2 separate regions of the Homo sapiens genome follow, and region 2 is linked to region 1. The links come from fine-mapping of genetic effects on gene expression. A gene starts in region 1. The other region holds a variant in brackets. All regions are shown on one strand. Distances are from middle to middle.

Region 1 (10,254 bases):
ATTTTCAGACTGGACAGTCTGGTCCCATGTACATACTCTTAGCCTCTACGTGGTACTGCCTCCAGTACCTCAGTTTCTGAGTCTCTTCACCTCAGCCTTGGCCCAGGTACTTGGGTTTCTCTCTCTTTTCCCATTAGAGAAATAAGGTTTTCCAATGAAGAGTAGATTCTGGGGTTTGCCTTTCTGTCAAAGGGCCGTCACCAGAGCATGGCCCCGACCTGCCCATGATGCCACATCTGGTCAGTAGAGGGCGCTGGCTCCATAGTGGCTCTGGGTCCAGGCAAGTACCAAAAGGTTACTGGGATGTGCAAGAGAGAAAAGTCTGTTAATGCTGGAGTTTGAGAGGCTCCTGGTCTGAGTTTGGCATTCTGGTGTCCAGCATTTGGGACAGAATTACTTGTTCTTCTGTCCTAGGAAAAAGTCTCACGGCTGGAAACAGAGTTAGATGAGGAGAAGAACACCGTGGAGCTGCTAACAGATCGGGTGAATCGTGGCCGGGACCAGGTAACCGCCCCCACCCCTCATCTCTGTTTACCCCTGACTGCATCACCTCTTGGTTCTCTCAAAAACAACTCTACCCTCCCATCTTTCATCATCTGGCTGCCGAATCTGTGCGTGGCTGGGTCTCCTTCAGGGTTTTGTCTGCTTTGGGAAAGGTTGGCCAGTTTCCTTGGGTGGAAAGAAGCCAATGATTTGCATGGAGGAAGGGATCCTGGTGGCCTGGGCTGTTCTCTGACCTGAATTGGGGCTTCTTTGGTTTACAAGGGATACTAGTTCCTGGAGGGACGAAGGAGGCTCTGTTTGCATTCTCTGGCCCCTCCCATTTGAATAGGCTGTGATTTTTTAGTTGCCTGGGAATTTTTGGATTCAGGGTTCAGAGACCATCCTCCCATGACTCAGCCTCACTTTGTTCAGCTTGCTGGTTCATCCTTAGCCCTCCCCAAGTCTGGTCCTCTCACCCATCCCCACTAGGTGGATCAGCTGAGGACAGAGCTCATGCAGGAAAGGTCTGCTCGGCAGGACCTGGAGTGTGACAAAATCTCCTTGGAGAGACAGGTGATGGGGGAGGGGAGGATTCTTAGGGATGGACCCCAGGAGGTGAGTAAAATGGCCAGTGGAGTGCTAACTGTGGAGGCTTCCTGTCCCTCTCAGAACAAGGACCTGAAGACCCGGTTGGCCAGCTCAGAAGGCTTCCAGAAGCCTAGTGCCAGCCTCTCTCAGCTTGAGTCCCAGAATCAGTTGTTGCAGGAGCGGCTACAGGCTGAAGAGAGGTGACATAAGCCTATCCTTCCTCCCTTCCTCCCTCCTTTTCTTCCTCCCTCCCTCTTGGCTTTTCTCCTCTGTGGCTCCCTCCATCTTCCACCTCAGATATGGCCAGCCTGGCCTGATCTTTAGGGAACACTTTCTCCTGATAGAGAGCAAAGAGTGTTGCAGAAATTCTGAAATGTGAATGACGTCACTCTCCCTCATTCTTTGAATCTGCCCTGGATCCTGCCCAGTCTAATGGTGGAGCTCATGGCTGAGAGGAGTCCTTGGGGACAGTAGGGGGCCAAGTTAGGATTCCCTTAGAAATGGGGACACTCATAGACATTCTTCTACCTCACCTTAGGGAGAAGACAGTTCTGCAGTCTACCAATCGAAAACTGGAGCGGAAAGTTAAAGAACTATCCATCCAGATTGAAGACGAGCGGCAGCATGTCAATGACCAGAAAGACCAGGTGAGGACATGGCACCCTGGAGCCAAGCAACCTGGGGCAGGTATATATTATATGTTTTCCTGAAAGCCAAGGGAGGCCCTTATCTCCTATAGGTCCTCCAAACTTAGACTTTCCTTGTATAAGGACAGAGATTAGATTGAAAAGACTAGACTAGAGAAGTCATGGTAAGCGTATATATTGAGTGCTTATGATGTGCTAGGTTCTGTAAGTATTACACATGTGTTAATACATTTAATCCCTAAGACAACCATGTGAGGTTAAGGAACTTGCCCAAGGCCACATTTTTCCAGCGGCAATTATACCTTGTCAAGATTGTTATGGGGGAGGGTCCCAGGCCATGGTAGTAGATGCTATTCAGATGTGTGGACTTGGTATCCTGCCCAGCTAAGCCTGAGGGTGAAGGCTTTGAAGCGTCAGGTGGATGAAGCAGAAGAGGAAATTGAGCGACTGGACGGCCTGAGGAAGAAGGCCCAGCGTGAGGTGGAGGAGCAGCATGAGGTCAATGAACAGCTCCAGGCCCGGATCAAGTCTCTGGAGAAGGACTCCTGGTATGGGCTACCCTTTTGCCCTTGCTCCATAGGGACACTAGAGCAGGGAGGGAATGGTCTCTCCTGTGCTGGATAAGGAGGAGAATCTCTAACATGGTACTGTGTAGTCACTTGTTTCTGGTTGGAAGCCAGTATATTTATTTATTAGTATCTCAGCCACCATCCTGTACCTCCCCAAATCTGATTAGTTGGGGATTTTGTGAATAAACTTTAGGCCTTAGAAGAATTGGGGTTTCCTTTGTACAAAAAGGGTGGCTGTCTTAATATTTCTATTTTCCCCTCCCCAACCATTATTCTTCTCTCTGAGTCAGGCGCAAAGCTTCCCGCTCAGCTGCTGAGTCAGCTCTCAAAAACGAAGGGCTGAGCTCAGATGAGGAATTCGACAGTGTCTACGATCCCTCGTCCATTGCATCACTGCTTACGGAGAGCAACCTACAGACCAGCTCCTGTTAGCTCGTGGTCCTCAAGGACTCAGAAACCAGGCTCGAGGCCTATCCCAGCAAGTGCTGCTCTGCTCTGCCCACCCTGGGTTCTGCATTCCTATGGGTGACCCAATTATTCAGACCTAAGACAGGGAGGGGTCAGAGTGATGGTGATAAAAAAAAAAAATCATCAGCAATAAGCTGATAGATGGACTTTCCACTGTAGGAGTGGACATTTCAAGCCAACTGAGCCTTTTCCTCAAGTGCCGACACCTCCCTCATCTCTCTTATAGTGGAAGGATGGTCAGCATTAGGCTGATGGGGACTGAGAAGGATAGGAAGGGATAGAAATTGCCATGTGTATAAAGCTTTATTCTTTAGCCCTTAACCCTAAGGCTCAGGGAAATACCCTATGTTATTGTGCTCCCTGGATTCCTGCAACTCATTTTCCTTCCACTCTGGAGCAGGGTGAGGGGAATGTTATGGGTAACAGACATGCAGGCATGGCTCTACCCATTTCTTTGCACAAGTATGGGGCCCATGTGGTAGTCCCCATACCCCTCCAGTTCCTATATTTTTGTCTTCTTCCTTTCCCCTCTTTGCCATTCCTACCTTGCATTTTTCCTGTCAGTGCCTTAGCCAAGGCAAGGAGATAAGGATGCTCTTCTTGCTTTTTATATCTGCACATTCATACCTCTCCAAAGACCAGCTTTTCCCCAGCCAGGGCCCTCAGCCTTCCCTGCTGCCCCAGTGATTGATTGAGAGAGCTGTTGGGGTTTCTCTGCCAATGACCCCTGGGAGAGGGACTTTGGTAGGGTCATGATAAAGTGGCGGGGGTCTGGTCCTGCTCAGGGTTTTCATCCTTCCTCCTCTCCCTCCTCTGTGACTGTGGATATGGTTATAAGGTGGTTGCACCTGGGAGCCCTGACAACTGGCTGCACAAATTCCAAAAGTAAAGGTGTCAGTCCCTGTGGCCTTCCTTGGGGCTTCTCTGACCACATGTGCCCAACTTCAATAAGAGAACCAAGGGACCCTCATTTTCTGAGGTGCTTGGCTCTGATTCAGGGCTTTGCAAGGGGTTAGAAGCTGACTGTAAAAATGGGAAGAGGCAACGGAAGACATTTATTTCTCCTTTGGATTTTGGGGAGAACCAAGCCCTGGTAGGGAAGAGGTAAGGGGGATGATTCACCTCCATATTTCCTAAGCAGGTTGTATAGGGAGCCGGTGGCAGGAGGAAGGCTGTTTTCACAAATGACTTGTAATGTCGTGATTAAAAAAATTCCTATATTCTTCTGCAAATCAAACGTTCTTTCCCAATCCAATCCAGCCTTGGTTTTATTTTAAATTAAATATTAAAATTACACATTTATATTGAAATCCTTGGTTTGTCTTCTCATTCTTTTTCTTGGCATATTTGGAGGTCCAGATTTTATGAAGTCATATTAACTGTACAGCTTAGGAGCCGAAGCTGGAGTTTTCTTCACCTGACTTTTCAGAGGCCCTTTAGAACAGAGCAGATGGGACCTACGAAACCTGGAGATGTTTATAGCAGCCCCATTCTCTTCTCTCCTGAACAACCTTCTGGGAAGAACAAGGACAGTAAATGCCTTTTTTTTTTTTTTTTTTTTGAGACGGAGTCTCACTCTGTCACCCAGGCTGGAGTGTAATGGCATGATCTCAGCTCACTGCAACCTCTGCCTCCCGGGTTCAAGCGATTCTCCTGCCTCAGCCTCCTGAGTAGCTGGGATTACAGGCGCGTGCCTCCACACCCAGCTAATTTTTGTATTTTTAGTAGAGATGGCGTTTCACTGTGTTGGTCAGGCTGGTCTCAAACTCCTGACCTTGTGATCCGCCCACCTCGGCCTCCCAAAGTGGTGGGATTACAGGCATAAGCCACTGCGCCTGGCCAGCAGTAAATGCCTTTTTGAGGGTTAGAGTAGAACAGACCAGAACTGGGTTTTATTCCCTTGGGTCATAGTGATAACCCCAGCATTCACTTCCCAGGTAGAAAAATCCTCATTCATTCCTAACTGACATAGGACCCAGTCCCTAACTGGGAGGTAGGGACATTTCTGCTGTTCCTGCCCTAGTGTTGCCTTGAAGAGGGAGCTGGCCCTTCACTAGAGCCTATTGCCAGGTATAGGAGTACTATCCCTTCAGGAGTGGGTCAGACCTCCTCCTAAAGTATTCTGTCTGCTGTCTCTGTGGACCACAGCCAAGTGAAGAAGCCATCTGCCAAGAGCAGCTGGGCGGGGACGAAGCTCCAGGGTCCTGCTTGGCCAACCCTCTCTTCTAGGCCCTCAAGATCCCAGCCTAGGCTTGGGGAGAAAATGCAACTGGAAAAGTCAAGGCTCATCCTTTCTCACGAACACAAATTCCTTTTAAGGCAATGTGTCCCGCCTCTCCCAACTATATAAGGGCAGCGTCAGTAAAAGAGCTTCTGCAAAACAAGCCCCACCCAGAGCCTAAGCTGACTGGGCCTCCTGGGCCTCTTGCCAAGGAAGTGCACCTGCCAGACTGGCTTAGGCCAGTCTGAGTGAGCTGGACCTTGGTGCCTGCCTTTCTGCGGTGGAGGAAAGGTTTACTCAGCTCCACAAAGCCTACAGGTGGCTTACGTATAGGGAGAGGAGCATGTATGGAAGGAAGCTTTTGCAGGTTCCAACTCCTCATCCACTAGGAGCAGGCAGGGTGATTCCCTCTGACCAACACTGATCTTGGAAAGATGGAAAGCGACAAGATTAATGAAGAATGTGCAACCACATACTCCAGATAAAGCTGTTCAGTTAAAGCAGCCCCATGTCGCTCCCAAGCCCCACCTTTGTGTAAATCTATGCGAGCACCGATGGGGCATGTCCCAGACCCATTGGCTCCGCCCACCTCACCTCCTCGCCTATCGTTAGTTCTCTGCGAAACCGCGAACTGGGGGCGCGGCCTATCTTCAGCCCCGCCCCTGATGGGCCTATACAAGGGGGCGGTTCCGCGCGCGCCCGCCCAGTTGGAGCCAGACAGCGGGGTGGACAAGTGGCGTGTGTGCTGCGACCCCGAGGGAAGATGAACGGGACGCGGAACTGGTGTACCCTGGTGGACGTGCACCCAGAGGACCAGGCGGCGGTAAGAAAAAGCGCTCTCGCTGTCTTCTCCGTTTTGTATTCCCGGTTTCTAAGTCCGCCCCTTCCGTGCCCCGCGCCGTGTTGGCTGACATCACCTGGTGCCCGGCTCGCGCGGTCAGCCCTGCGCGGCGCTTCTCTCTTTTTATTCTTTTGCCTGCGACGGGCAGTGGGAGTCGCGGGGTGAAGACTCCTTTGAGGCTGGAGGGTTCGGGGCGTCCCTGCCCTTTGGTAGGACACTGCGGCTCCTGCCTGGGACTCGGCGCCGGCGAGCCCGTGCTTGGGCCGCGGGTCTCAGGCGTCTTTTGGGCAGCCACATTGGGTCATAAGAGAATGAGCTCAAGCGACTGGGTCCCTGAGCGCCTTTGGACGTTGTGTCCTGCCGAGGAGGCTTAGGCTTTCCCGTGGGTCGAGGGTCCTGGTGACCTCCGAGGCCCTCCAAAGAATTTCATCATGGTGCTTTGGATGATCAGTAACAAGAAAAATGGTAGAGTAAATTACAGGGCTTGGACTGGAGGGCGGGGGGCAAGTAGGGGACGGTAGGACTCAAACTATTCCGAGATTGGCTAGGGACTCTACCTTTCGCTAAGGGATAGGGCTTTCCGCCCGGGGGTCACCTCTTGTCTTGGATTTCTCCTTCTTCCCCCTTGTAGTTCTCTTGTTTTCCTCCCTCTATCTGCCTGCCGATAGCTTCCTGGGACGGTGTGTTAGTTTTGCTTCCGTCTCCAGCCGCCAGGCCCTGGGATAGTGGAGGAAGGGGATGCAGAACCCGGGCCGAGAAGGGGAGGGAAGTGACCCAAGCGAAGGCTTCTGGACGGGGAGAGGGTTGCGGAGAAAGGGGGCGTTCTCCAGTGCAGGCTGGTCTACCCCTCTCTCCTCTTTCTCTGGCTCCCAGTCCCAGTTCTCCCCACCCTAGCTGACCATATGGTTTTTCCTCTCCAGAGGCTGAGGAGGGTAATTTGTGGCTGAGTGTTTCTAGGCTCTTTTGGGGAACTTAACCCAGATTAGGTGTGTACTATTTCATCAATTTCCAAGCTATTGTGGGTGGGAGTGAAATGAAAACTAAGGTGATGGGGAACTTGTGTATCATCCCCCCTCCCACATCTGACTCCCTTACTCTCTGCCTGCCTCATCCTGCTCTTGAGGTAGAGCTAACCCAACTGCAGCTAGATTATGGCTCTTCTTCAAACTCATTTCAGGTTTAGAATACAGATGGTCATTTAGTTCTTTTCCCAGTCCCCTCTCCATTTCTGCCTGGGCTATGAGTGTTTTTGCCACATTAAAATACAGATGTTGCTATTGGCCAACCCCAGTTGCCCAAACCCCATTCTTCTGTAGCCTGCCACATCCCCAGCTATGAGACTCTGAAGAGATGGAAGAAATCTATCCATTATGTGTCAGCCACAAGTCCTACTCCCTGCTCTTTGTTTTTAAGCGACGAGTGTCTTGCTATGTTGCCGGAGCTGCAGTACAGTGGCTCTTCACGGGTGCAATCATAGCACACCACAGCCTTGAACTCCTGGCCTCAATCCTTCTGCCTCAGCCTCCTGAGTAGCTGGGACTTCAGATGCACACCACCTATAGCTTCTCTTCCATGCTCTTGCTCTCTCTTTTGGAATAGTTGAGGGAAAAGGGTATGAGATAAATAAAGGAGAGGGATGTTTGGGCTGCTTTTTGCTTGCTTGCTATATAGAAAAGAGATCCGGAAAGAAGTCTAAGACCAAGTTGGCACTGGCAGTGTTAATGAATCATTAACCTCTACTATTTTTTTTCTTTCTTCCTTTCTTTTCTTTTCTCTTTTCTTTTCTCTTTTTTTGAGACAGGGCCTTGCTCTGTTGCCCAGGCTGGAGTGCAATGGCATGATCTCAGCTCACTGCAACCTCCACCTCCTGGTTTCAGTAGATCCTCCTACCTCAGTCTCCCCAAGTAGCTGAGACTGTAGGCACATGCCACCACACCTGACTAAAATTTTTTTTTTTTTTTTCTGTTGGTAGAGATGGGATTTCACCATGTTGCCCAGGCTAGTCTCGAACTCCTGGGCTCAAGCAGTCTGCCCACCTTGGCCTCCCAAAGGCTTGGGATTACAGGCATGAGCCACTACATCTGGCCCCTTTTACTCTTTCTTGATGTTTTTGCTCTTTGTCTGGTGGGGCAGAAAAAATTACTAAGAGAAAATAATGGACAAGGAATTCAGATGGTCTCCATCATAGGTTAGTTTGAAGCTAACCAGAGACCTCTAGAGCAAGGGAGAGACAGAAATTCCCTTTTATTCCTTTTTTCTAGGCTGAACTTGAGACTTATTTTACTCCAGAGCTGGGAATGAAGTAATCATTGCCCAGATCTGATCTTGGAGACATTCCTGGGCCCTTAAGGGAGGGGAGGAGATGGTGAACAGTCGGGACACAGGCCTTGTCCTGGATTCCTCTTCTCTGAGCCAACTTGCAGACAGAATTTATGGCTCTGGACAACCCCCAGGAATCTGTCATATATTCACACCACTGAATGGGTGCTCAATTCATGTGCAAAGTGAGTCAATAAATAAATGAACAGATGTTTCTTCCGGAGTCAGAATGTAGACAGTTGAACTGATTAGAGATCCTACTGGGAGTGAGGGCCCTGGGACTCTGTTGGTGTTTCCCCACTAGCCAGGCAGTGTGCCTTAGCGTATCACATGTGGACATGGACATAGGGCCAATACACTCTCTGGGATGTTTTTATTGTTGGAGGCAGATGCAGCAGGTACAAGGAGCCAGTGTTTTTCAGAACTGCAGACCATAACCAGTAGTGGGTCTGAGATCAACTTAGTAGGTCAGACCAGTATTAAAAAAGAAATAGAATTAACACTCTTAGAGTGTTAGTGAGGATAGACATTTTTGGTAGAACTTTTATTTCAGTTATATATATATGTGTGTGTGTGTGTGTGTGTGTGTGTGTGTGTATTATATATGTACGTGTTTGTTTACTGGGTCTTGATGTGAAATATGTTTTTGAGATTGAAAAGTTTTGCAAGCCACTGTGGTAAGTTATATTGGCAAATAAAAGAACAAATAAACACCAAACTCCTTTTTACTAGATATTTCCATTAACTTCCTTTGGTTATAAACAACAGAGAATGACTCCAGCTAAACTAAGCAGATGAGGAAATTATTAGAAGGAAATAGAGCAGTTCACAGAATTTAAGGGAAAGCTTAGAAAGCCCTAACCAAGGATGTTCTGGGGCCTGGGTAAGTGGAACGATGGAGGCTTACTACTATTGGTGAATTGGTTCCAGCTGTTTTAGGTCTCTGCACCATTATGCTCAAGATTCCAGGGAGAGAGTACCATTGTCCCTTGGCCCCCAGTTGTCCAGAGCAGGACAGGGTTCCTTGACTGATAGGCCCCCCCCAGATTACAGTGATGGAAGGAGATTCTCCAAAGACCCAAGTGTTGTTATCAGTGGAGGGGAATGGAAGCTGCGTGGCAAAAGAACAGATGTCTATGACATTAGACTTTACCATGGATGATCTCTGATTTCATTTCCCTCCTTCCCTCTCTTCCTTCTTTCCATCCTTCTTTAAATCACTTTTTTTTTTTTTTTTGAGACAGGGTCTCACTCTGTTGCCCAGGCTGGAGTGCAGTGGTGTGATCATAGCTCACTGCAGCCTTGAACTCCTGGACTCAAGGGATCCTTTCACCTCAGCCTCCCAAGTAGCTGGGACCACAGGCATACTCAACATGTTTAGCTAATTTTTCATTTTTCGTAGATATGGGTTCTCACTATGTTGCCCAGGCTAGTCTTGAACTCCTGGTTTAAAGTAATCTTCCTGCCTCGGCCTCTCAAAGTGCTGGGATTACAGGTGTGCACCACTGCACCTGGCCTTAAATCACCTTTTTTTTGGGCGGTGGGAGGGGGAGGATGGAGTCTCACTCTGTCACCCAGGCTGGGGTGCGGTGGCACAATCTTGGCTCACTGCAACCTCCATCTCCCTGGTTCAAGCAATTCTCCTGCCTCAGCCTCCCGAGTAGCTGGGATTACAGGCATGGGCCACCATGCCCAGCTAATTTTTGTACTTTTACTAGAGATGGGGTTTCATCATGTTGGCCAGGCTGGTCTCAAACTCCTGACCTCAAATGATCTGCCCGCTTCGGCCTTCCAAAGTACTGGGATTACAGGCGTGAGCCACCGTGCCTGGCCTCTTAAATCACTTTTTATCAAAGGAGTTTCACTCTTGTTGCCCAGGCTGGAGTGCAACGACGTGATCTCGGACATTTAAAATCACATATGTGCATGATTTTAAAGTATCAAAGTATCAATAATATCAAAAGGCTTTTAAAAGAAAATAGCAGTCCCCTGCTCCAAGTTCTGCTCCATGGAAGTAACCACTTTCTACTCTTTGAGCTGTTTTGTGTTTACCTCCATGTTTCTAAATAATATGCTTACAGTGATTTTAATTGATTTATCAGTTTTAGACATCTATTG
Region 2 (9,109 bases), 21 kb after region 1:
CACAGTGACTCACGCCTGTAATCCCAGCACTTTGGGAGACCAAGGCAGATGGATCACTTGAGGTCAGGAGTTCGAGACCAGCCTGGCCAACATGGTGAAGCCCCCTCTATATTAACATATAAAAATTAGCCAGGCATTGTCACGGGAGCTTGTAATCCCAGTTCAGTTACGTGGGAGGCTGAGGTAGGAGAATTGCTTGAACCTGGGAGGCAGAGGTTGCAGTGAGCCGAGATTGCGTCACTGTACTCCAGCCTGGGTGACAGAAACAGAATTAGTCTCAAAAACCAAACAAAATGCTGAGATTACAGATGTGAGCTATGATGCCCGGTTCTGTTTTTCATTTATCTGTTTTCTTTTTCCTGCCTTCCTGTGGATTAACTGAACACTTTTTAGGATTCCATTTTTATTCATTTATAATGTTTTTGAGTGTTATCTCTTTGTATAGACTTTTTAGTGGTTACTCTAGGTATTATACATTATGTATACATAGGTTATCACAGTCTCCTGGTGTTGGCATTTTACTAGTTTGAGTGAAGAAGAGAAACCTTTCCTTCCTTTACATCCCTTTACCTTCTCCCATTTATGATACTAAATATTTAATAGTATAATATTATCATATTTAAATATTTTCTCTGCATACATTTAGAACCACATCAGACATTGTTATACTTTTTGCTTTAATCATCAAATGTAACTTAGAAAACCTAAGAGGGGCTTTCCAGCCCCAGCCCCGGCCCCTACAGCCACCGAGATGTTGATGCCTAAGAACCGGATTGCCATTTATGAACTCCTTTTTAAGGAGGGAGTCATGGTGGCCAAGAAGGATGTCCACATGCCTAAGCACCGGGAGCTGGCAGACAAGGATGTGCCCAATCTTCATGTCATGAAGGCCATGCAGCCTCTCAAGTCCCGAGGCTACGTGAAGGAACAGTTTGCCTGGAGACATTTCCACTGGTACGTTACCAATGAGGGCATCCAGTATCTCCGTGATTACCTTCATCTGCCCCGGAGATTGTGCCTGCCACTCTATGCTGCAGCCGTCCAGAGACTGGAAGTCCTCAGCCTAAAGGTCTGAAGGGTGAGCGACCTGCAAGACTCACAAGAGGGAAAGCGGACAGAGATAACCTACAGACGGAGTGCTGTGCCGCCTGGTGCCGACAGCAAAGCTGAGGCTGGGGCTGGGTCAGCAACCGAATTCCAGTTTAGAGGTGGATTTGGTTGAGGATGTGGTCAGCCACCTCAGTAAAATTGGAGAGGATTATTTTGCATTGAATAAACTTACAGCAAAAAAACTTAAAAAAAAAAAAAGAAAACCTAAGAGGGGAAGGAAATCTTGTTGTATTTACCCATCTTTTTTCAACTCATGTTTCTTTCTTCCCATTATTTCAAGTTTCCTTTTTTTAAAAAATAATTTCCTTTCTGTTTAGAGAACTTTTTAAGCCATTCTTTTAGTGTAGGTCTGCTGGTGAGAAATTCTCTTAGTTTTCCTTCATCTGAGAATGTCTTGATTTCCCCCTCATTTCTGAAGGATATTTTCCTTTGTTACAGGATATTTTCCTTTGTCAATTCTGAATTGACCGTTCTTCTCTTTCAGCATTTGAAAAATAGTATGCCACTTCCTTCTACTCTCTGTCATTTCCGAAGAGAAAATAACCTTTGAGGGATCCCCTCAAAGGTTATTTTCTCTGCTTTCAAGACTTTTTCTTTGTCTTTAGTTATCAGAAATTTAATTATGATCTATCATGGCATGAATTTCATGTTTATTCTGTTTGAAGTTTGCTTGGCTTCTTGAATCTATAGATTTGTGTCTTTTGCCAAATTTTGAAAATTTTTGGTCATTATTTCTTTGAGAACATTTTCAACTGACCCTCTTTCTCCTCTCTACCTGGAATTCTGATGGCTGGATGGAATCATCTCTCAGTGCCCCAACCCAGCCTAGTTGTCTATGCTCTTCCAATTGGAATGCGTAGGTTTATGAAACAGACCAGACTTGACCTTCATTAGCTAATAACCCCTTTGTTCTGACTGAAGGATGCCCTGCCTTTTCCCAGCCTGCCTCCATAGAACACTATGGGGAGATAGTGTCCTTTTTTTTTTTTTTTCTTTTTGAGACGGAGTCTTGCTCTGTTGCCCAGGCGGGAGTGCAGTGGTATGATCTTGGCTCCCTGGAACCTCCACCTCCTAGGTTCAAGCGATTCTCCTGCCTCAGCCTCCCTAGTAGCTGGGATTACAGGTGCCTGCCACCACAGCCAGCTGAGTTTTATATTTTCAGTAGAGACGGGGTTTCACCATGTTGGCCAGGCTGGTCTCAAACTCCTGACCTCAGGTGATCCACCCACCTTGGCCTCCTAAAGTGCTGGGTTTACAGGCATGAGCCACTGCCCCTGGTCGAGATACTGTTTTAATAAAAGTGCAGGTATGTCCTGGGAAGGAAGAATTTGGCAGCCATTCTGGCTATTTTGAAATCATTTCCTCTTTTTTCTTTTGTAATATTTTCTTGACCTAGATGTCATGGAGCATTCTCTGTGCATTCAGAAAATACCTTTGCTAAGGGCTGTGGCATACAACAGCTCTTGAGGAGTTAACAGAAGGGGTAATTCTTCACAAAACACAAATAACTGAGAGGCAGATGCCATGGGAGGCCTTGTGACGCTGTGGGAGCTCAAGGAGGGGAAGATGTGTTTCCCACAGGATGCGGGGTAGCATCTTGGAAGATGAGGCATTTGAACATGAACTTGAGGAACTTGGAGACGCCTTAGGTGAAAATGGGAAGAATAGATATTTAAGGCACAGGAAATGATGGGAGCAAAGGCACTGAAGTTGGAAACCATGGAATGTATTGGATAGGGCACTGAGAGATGGTAGCAAGAGGTGTGAGTTTACCCAGACTGTGGAAAGCCTTGCATGCCACTCTAAGGATGTGGCTTTTATTTCATAGGAATTAAGTGTTTTCATAAAACCAGCTACTTTGCTAGGGTTGGGAAGGTTTAAGGGCCATTGTGACAGTGTCTTCTGTCTTCCCAATCCAAAAAGTGGGAGGATGCTGATGTTTCAGTGCCACCCTCCTGTGTGGCAGAGAGTAACCTCCATACATTTTCTCATTTTCTTTTTCTTTTTGAGACAGCATCTCACTCTGTCGTCCAGGCTGGAGTGCAGTGGCGCGATCTCAGCTCACTTTAACCTCCGCCTCCCTGGTTCAAGCGATTCTCCTGCCTCAGTCTCCTGAGCAGCTGGGATTACAGGCGCCCACCACCACGCCTGGCTAATTTTTTTGTATTTTTGGTAGAGATGGGGTTTCACCATGTTGGCCAGGCTGGTCTCGAACTCCTGACCTCAGGTGATCCTCCCACCTCGGCCTCCCAAAGTGCTGGGATTACAGGCATGAGCCAGCACACCGGCAATATTTTTAAGTAATATTCAACAAAAAAACCCTCAGTTGGGGGCCGGGTGCGGTGGCTCACGCCTGTAATCCCAGCGCTTTGGGAGGCTGAGGCGGGAGGATCACAAAGTCAGGAGTTCGAGACCAGCCTGGCCAATGTGGCGAAACCCCGTCTCTACTAAAAATACAAAAATTAGCCAGGTGTGGTGGCAGATGCCTGTAATCCCAGCTACTTGGGAGGCTGAGGCAGGAGAATTGCTTGAGCCCAGGAGACGGAGGCTGCAGTGAGCCAAGATCGTGTCACTGCACTCCAGCCTGGGAGACAAGAGCAAGACTCCATCTCAAACAAACAAAAAACCCTCAGTTGGATGGTAATATACCCCTTTTACAGATAAAAACATCAAGAGTTAAGTATCTCACCAAAGACTGATTTCTTCTCCACCAAGTTGGAACGTTATCTTCTCTAGACATTTGGAAGGTTAAGAGGGTTCCTTAAAACCTGTTACCAGTAAGATGTCATTTATGCAGCTGGGCCTCAAGGCAGGGGATGACCAGATGACCTCAAGATCACTTTCATTCTTGGATAGCCCAGCACCTATTTCTCTTCATTGTCTGGGAGAGGCATATACTCCATCCTCACGCTGTCACAGAATGGAATCCAGAAGGAGCCTGAGATATACTTGGTCCAACTTCCTTATTTTTCCAGTGGGAACCAGAGATCCATAGTGGCTAAGCCCCTCATTCACTTCCATGCATAGTGCAGGTGATTTACTCTGCCTTGTTAGCCTTCTCTCAACGTTATCATCTTCCCAATCTACAGGCCCTTACTTTTCCCTCCTACCACGTTTTTCCTTTCAGGTTTTTAATTTTCCCTGCAAAGTATTGTGTGTGTGTGTGTGTGTGTGTGTGTGTGTGTGTGTGTGTGTGTGTGAGTGTTTGAGACGGAGTCTTGCTCTGTCACCCAGGCTGGAGTGCAGTGGCACAATCTTGGCTCACTACAAGCTCCGCCTCCCGGGTTCACGCCATTCTGCTGCCTCAGCCTCCCGAGTAGCTGGGACTACAGGCGCCTGCCACCACGCCAGGCTGATTTTGTTTTTGTATTTTTTAGTAGAGACGGGGTTTCACTGTGTTAGCCAGGATGGTCTCGATCTCCTGACCTCGTGATCCACCTGCCTTGGCCTCCCAAAGTGCTGGGATTACAGGCGTGAGCCACCGTGCCCGGCCTTTTTAAAAAAATCTTCTTTGAAGCCCGGGCAACATGGCAAAACCTCATGTCTACAAAAAATACAAAAATTAGATGGGCATATTGGTGCGCCTGTAGTCCCAGCTACTTGGGAGGCTGAGGTGGGTGGATCACTTAAGCCTGGGAGGTTGAGGCTGCAGTCATGCGCGCGCGC[G/A]CGCACACACACACACACACACACACACACACACACTTCTTTGACTTATGAAAGAAAACCTGCTTCATTCTTTGAAATTAGGTTGATCTCTAGATGAATACCTATTATCTTGCCTGTTTTCACTTGGATAATTTCCATGTGGCTCATAGAAATGGGAGTTTGAATTCAGGTACTTTCCTATAGTTTAGTTCAGGAAGAATATGCTAGTCTTGTAAAGTGCATCAATAACTTGCTGGCTGGTTGTCAGGAGCAGAAATTCTGGATTGAGGATGAGCAGTCCAGGAATGACCTCTCTACAACTAGAGAAAGAAGAATGCATGCAATGTGTTCCCTGTAGTCCAAGAACCAGGGTAGCCCTGCTGGAGCTCTACAGAGCCATGTGCCAGGTAATCTTTGTTGTGAAAGAAAAAACTGTTGGGTGGTCCCAGAGTCACCACCCCAAACACCTGATCTTGGGCAAGGTAATGCTGCCTCCCTGGACTTCAGTTTTCCTAGTCTGTGAAGTGGTGATGATAAGACCCGCTCCACAGAGCTGGCAGAAGCACCCCTGTACTGGTAGCAGTTTGTACCTGTAGACTGTAAAGTTGAGGGGTTATTGTTGCTGTCATTGTCATTATTAGGGCAGCGTGGACATTCTCAGGCTGACTCTCCAGGGTGAACTGACAGGAGATGAACTTGAACACATAGCCCAGAAGGTACTGCGGAATTCTGGTGGGCAAGGCCCCCTCCCCACACCAGTGCTTCCTTGCTGCTGGCCTCTTACCCAAGTACTGCCTGGAGCCGACTCTGGTGATGCGAGCGTGGGAGCCCCTCCTTTCAGCAACATCCAGCTTGCCTCAGCCTTCTGCACTGCTTTGGGGCAGGAGGAGTCCCCCACTAAAATTAAAACTAAACTGCTACTTCTGTCCATTCTCCCTGGCCGGTGTTCTTGCTGCTGTGTGGCTTCTGTTAGAAGTTCGGAAACGAATTTTTGGAGAGGAAAGTCAGACTAATCCTTCAAGTCTTTTGAGAAACAGGTCTTCTGCATTAGCTGAGGGGCAGGAGTTCTGGGCTTGCCATGTGGTGTCTGAGCCATCTCTCTCTCTCTCTCTCTCTCTCATCTCTCTTTGGCCAGGCGGGCAGGAAGACCTATGCCATGGTGTCCAGCCACTCAGCTGGTCATTCTCTGGCTTCAGAACTGGTGGAGTCCCATGATGGACATGAGGAGATCATTAAGGTAAGCTTAGTTCACCTCCAACTTTTCTCCCTGTCCTCTTCCTCCCTGCACGTATATGAGAAGGAGCAGTTGATGTTGTTGCCAAAGGGAGCTTGTGGTTTGATGGAAGGAACCAGACCTGAGCTGCTAGTTCCTGGCAATCTCCTAGAAATATCTTAATTAATACCAGGAGACTACAGTCTGCCTGTTAGCAACTTTGGTGCAGCCTGGCCCCAGGCAAGGGGATGGACTGGATGACCTTACTAGGGGCCTATCCACTGACCATGTTTTGCTGCTAGAGGTTGTGGAGACAGGTAGGAGGTGTGTTTATGGAACTTATGTTTTCCTATAATGGGTTCATCCTGATGGAACTTATTTATTTATTTATATATTTTTAGTTTTGTAGAGACAGTCTCGCCTTGTTCCCTGGGCTGGTCTCCAAATCCTGGGCTCGAGCAATCGTCCTGTCTCAGCCTCCCAAAATGCTGGTATTATAGGCGTGCACCAGCCCACCTGGCTGATGGAACTTATTTTTTAAAAAATAAAATGATTTTTGTTATTTCTCTCTCTCTTTTTTTTTATAAAACAGCTTTTTTAGATATAAATCCCATACCACATGATTGACTCAGTTACAGTTTTGGTCAGTGCATAACAAAACTGCATAACAACGTTTTGGTCAGTGATGGACTGCGTAGACAACAGTGGTCCCATAAGATTATTATACTCCATTTTTACTGTATTTTTTCTGGGTTTAGATACATTACCATTGTGTGACGATCACCTACAGTATTCAGTACAGTAACATGCTGTGCAGGTTTGTTTGTAGCCTAGGAGCAATAGGGTACACCATACAGCCTAGGGGTGTAGGAGGCCATGCCATCTAGGTTTGTGTGTGTACACTCTGTGATGTTTGTACAAGGATGAAATTGCCTAATGATGCATCCCTCAGAATGTATTCCTATGATTAAGTGATGCATGACTGTATATATGTGAGTGTTTATGCCAATACAGCTATATAGCATTGAGCTAAATTTATTGCATTAGGGTAAATTTCCAGAAGTAGAACTGATAGACCAAAAAGTAAATATATTTTTAGGTCTTCTGATCCGAATCACCAAATTCCACCCAGTAAATTGGTGGTAACAATTTACCCTCCCACCAGCACTATATGAAGCTGCCTATTTTTGTATAGTTAATTTAATTTGAGGTTTCTTAACTAAATGGTGTTCTTATTTCAGGTGTACTTGAAGGGGAGGTCTGGAGACAAGATGATTCACGAGAAGAATATTAACCAGCTGAAGAGTGAGGTCCAGTACATCCAGGAGGTGGGCACCCCTTACCTCTCACGCAGTGCCTAGGTCATTTCTCTAAATCTCACATTTTTTGTGACTGTCTTCTTTTGTGGATTCTGGTTTTTCCCCTTCTTTTTCCTTTATGTCTCTGAAATGCCACCATGCCCTCCCGTGTGTCAAATATATAACTTTTGACCATACCTGATCCATTAATCCACAAATACTTAAGTACTATGGGCCCAGCACTGTCCCAGCCACCTATCGAAAATTACCAGCCACTTTTCACAGCATTTCTTAACTCCCTTCCTGGCTCGTGTTTCTCGTTGGCACTTATGCCCATATAACATATTACACATTTTACTTATTTGTCTTTTGTGTCTTGTGTCTCCCCAACAAGAATGTCAGCTGTAGCTCCACTTGACCAAGGTCCCTCCCTCCATCCTGCAGCCAGTCGTTAGGACAGTGCCTGACTCGCAGTACAGGCCAGGGATGGGGCACAGAGTTGGGTGAGTTGGCATGCTCTCTTTCTCTACCCTAAAGCTCAAGTTTCTTCCCCTCCCCTCCCAGGCCAGGAACTGCCTACAGAAGCTCCGGGAGGATATAAGTAGCAAGCTTGACAGGAACCTAGGAGATTCTCTCCATCGACAGGAGATACAGGTAATAGGAAATGGTCCATGGTTGGGTCCCCACCGAGGAGGTGGGGTTGTGCCAGGCAGTCTCATTTACCAATTACCCAGTGTGTGCTAAATCTAGCATCCCTGCCAGGAATGGAGAAAATAGAGGTGATGCTGGCTTCTCTGGAGCACTCACAATCTGGTTAGGACTCTCCAGCCGATGAGCACTTACATTTACACATGTCAGCTTAAACATAAGTACACCTGCTCCTGAAACACTGTACAGAAATTGAACTTATATAAATTAAATATCATCAGTTGTTAGCAAACCTCTTATCTATAAGGATTCTGTGATCAAGCTTCTTATAATAATAGAATTTTGTAAAGCAGACAATCACCTGTAAATCCACACTTCTCATAAGCTGATCTTGCTTAGTTTGGGTGATACCTGTAGCGTAAATTGAAGTCCGTGCCCTAGCCTGTTATTAATCTTGTATATAGTTATGTCTAACCTGGGATGGGAAGTTCCTCAAGGTTAGGAGTTCACCCCACCCCACCCCACCTCGTGTCTGTATCCTCACCCTCCCATTCCCCCCAGGTCTGGGATGTAGAAGGCATCAGTAAATGTTTGTTAGACTGAACAGATTGGGTAAGTCTTTCCTGGGAGGGATAATCCTGGGATCCTGCTTTTCAGTTTTTCCAAAACTCGAGGACAGAAATGTCCTCAGGAGAGCAGAGCTGTCTCTTTGTGACTTCGCCCTCATCCTTTAGATTCTGAGTTGTATCCTTGATTTGCATTTTGGTTCAGGCAGAGTCTTGCTCCAGCAGCAGCCCCTGCCTTCATTCCCTTGAGGGGAACAGTGGCCCAGCAGCTGGTGCAAGGAAAGTTCTTTGTCTTGGGCATGCACTTGTGTGGTGGAAATTACCTAATTTTTGCTTTGGCTGAAGGTAGGTCTTTCAGTGCTTGAGCTCACATCTGGCTGGTGGGAGCTACTTTGTCAGGTATCAGAAGAACCTAATGTGTGCAGAGACTGGCCCAAAGTCCAGCCCCCTTGTTTGCACAAACCGGCTGTCATATGATGAATAATCAGGCTTTGGGTCAGAAATAATTGAAAAAGATCTTCCCTTTGTAATTTTTGCTTTGTCAAACTTTATCAGGATCCCTGGGGGCAAGGGAAGCTCTTTGTTTGTGGCAGGCAGCTGCATGTATTCCCTGGCTAAGAAGAATGGGC

Which allele goes with the higher level. Positions count from the first base shown, and alleles are read on the strand shown. Sizes are in standard deviations (SD) of each study's normalised expression.
With allele G in place of A in region 2, the expression in iPS cells of the gene that starts at base 5,682 in region 1 is lower (moderate effect, 0.72 SD a copy in HipSci).

What was found.
Region 2: its variant is fine-mapped to the expression of TUFT1 in iPS cells (HipSci, PIP 0.92).

What each region holds. Positions count from the first base shown.
Region 1 is chr1:151,534,628-151,544,881 of GRCh38, forward strand. TUFT1 (tuftelin 1) reads left to right here and starts at 5,682. Exons shown (of 13, transcript NM_020127.3): 1 at 5,682-5,799. The coding sequence starts at 5,740. It overlaps CGN (cingulin), which reads left to right. Exons shown (of 21, transcript NM_020770.3): 16 at 415-504; 17 at 973-1,056; 18 at 1,153-1,271; 19 at 1,610-1,718; 20 at 2,103-2,266; 21 at 2,578-4,065. The coding sequence ends at 2,719. RefSeq lists enhancers at 4,427-4,943, 5,459-5,974, 5,975-6,489.
Region 2 is chr1:151,556,695-151,565,803 of GRCh38, forward strand. It overlaps TUFT1 (tuftelin 1), which reads left to right. Exons shown (of 13, transcript NM_020127.3): 2 at 5,397-5,471; 3 at 5,891-5,992; 4 at 7,210-7,296; 5 at 7,831-7,920. It also overlaps the pseudogene RPS10P6. Among named protein-coding and RNA genes, the nearest start is that of MIR554, 15 kb to the left of the region's middle. The variant G/A (reference allele first, on the strand shown) is at 4,777.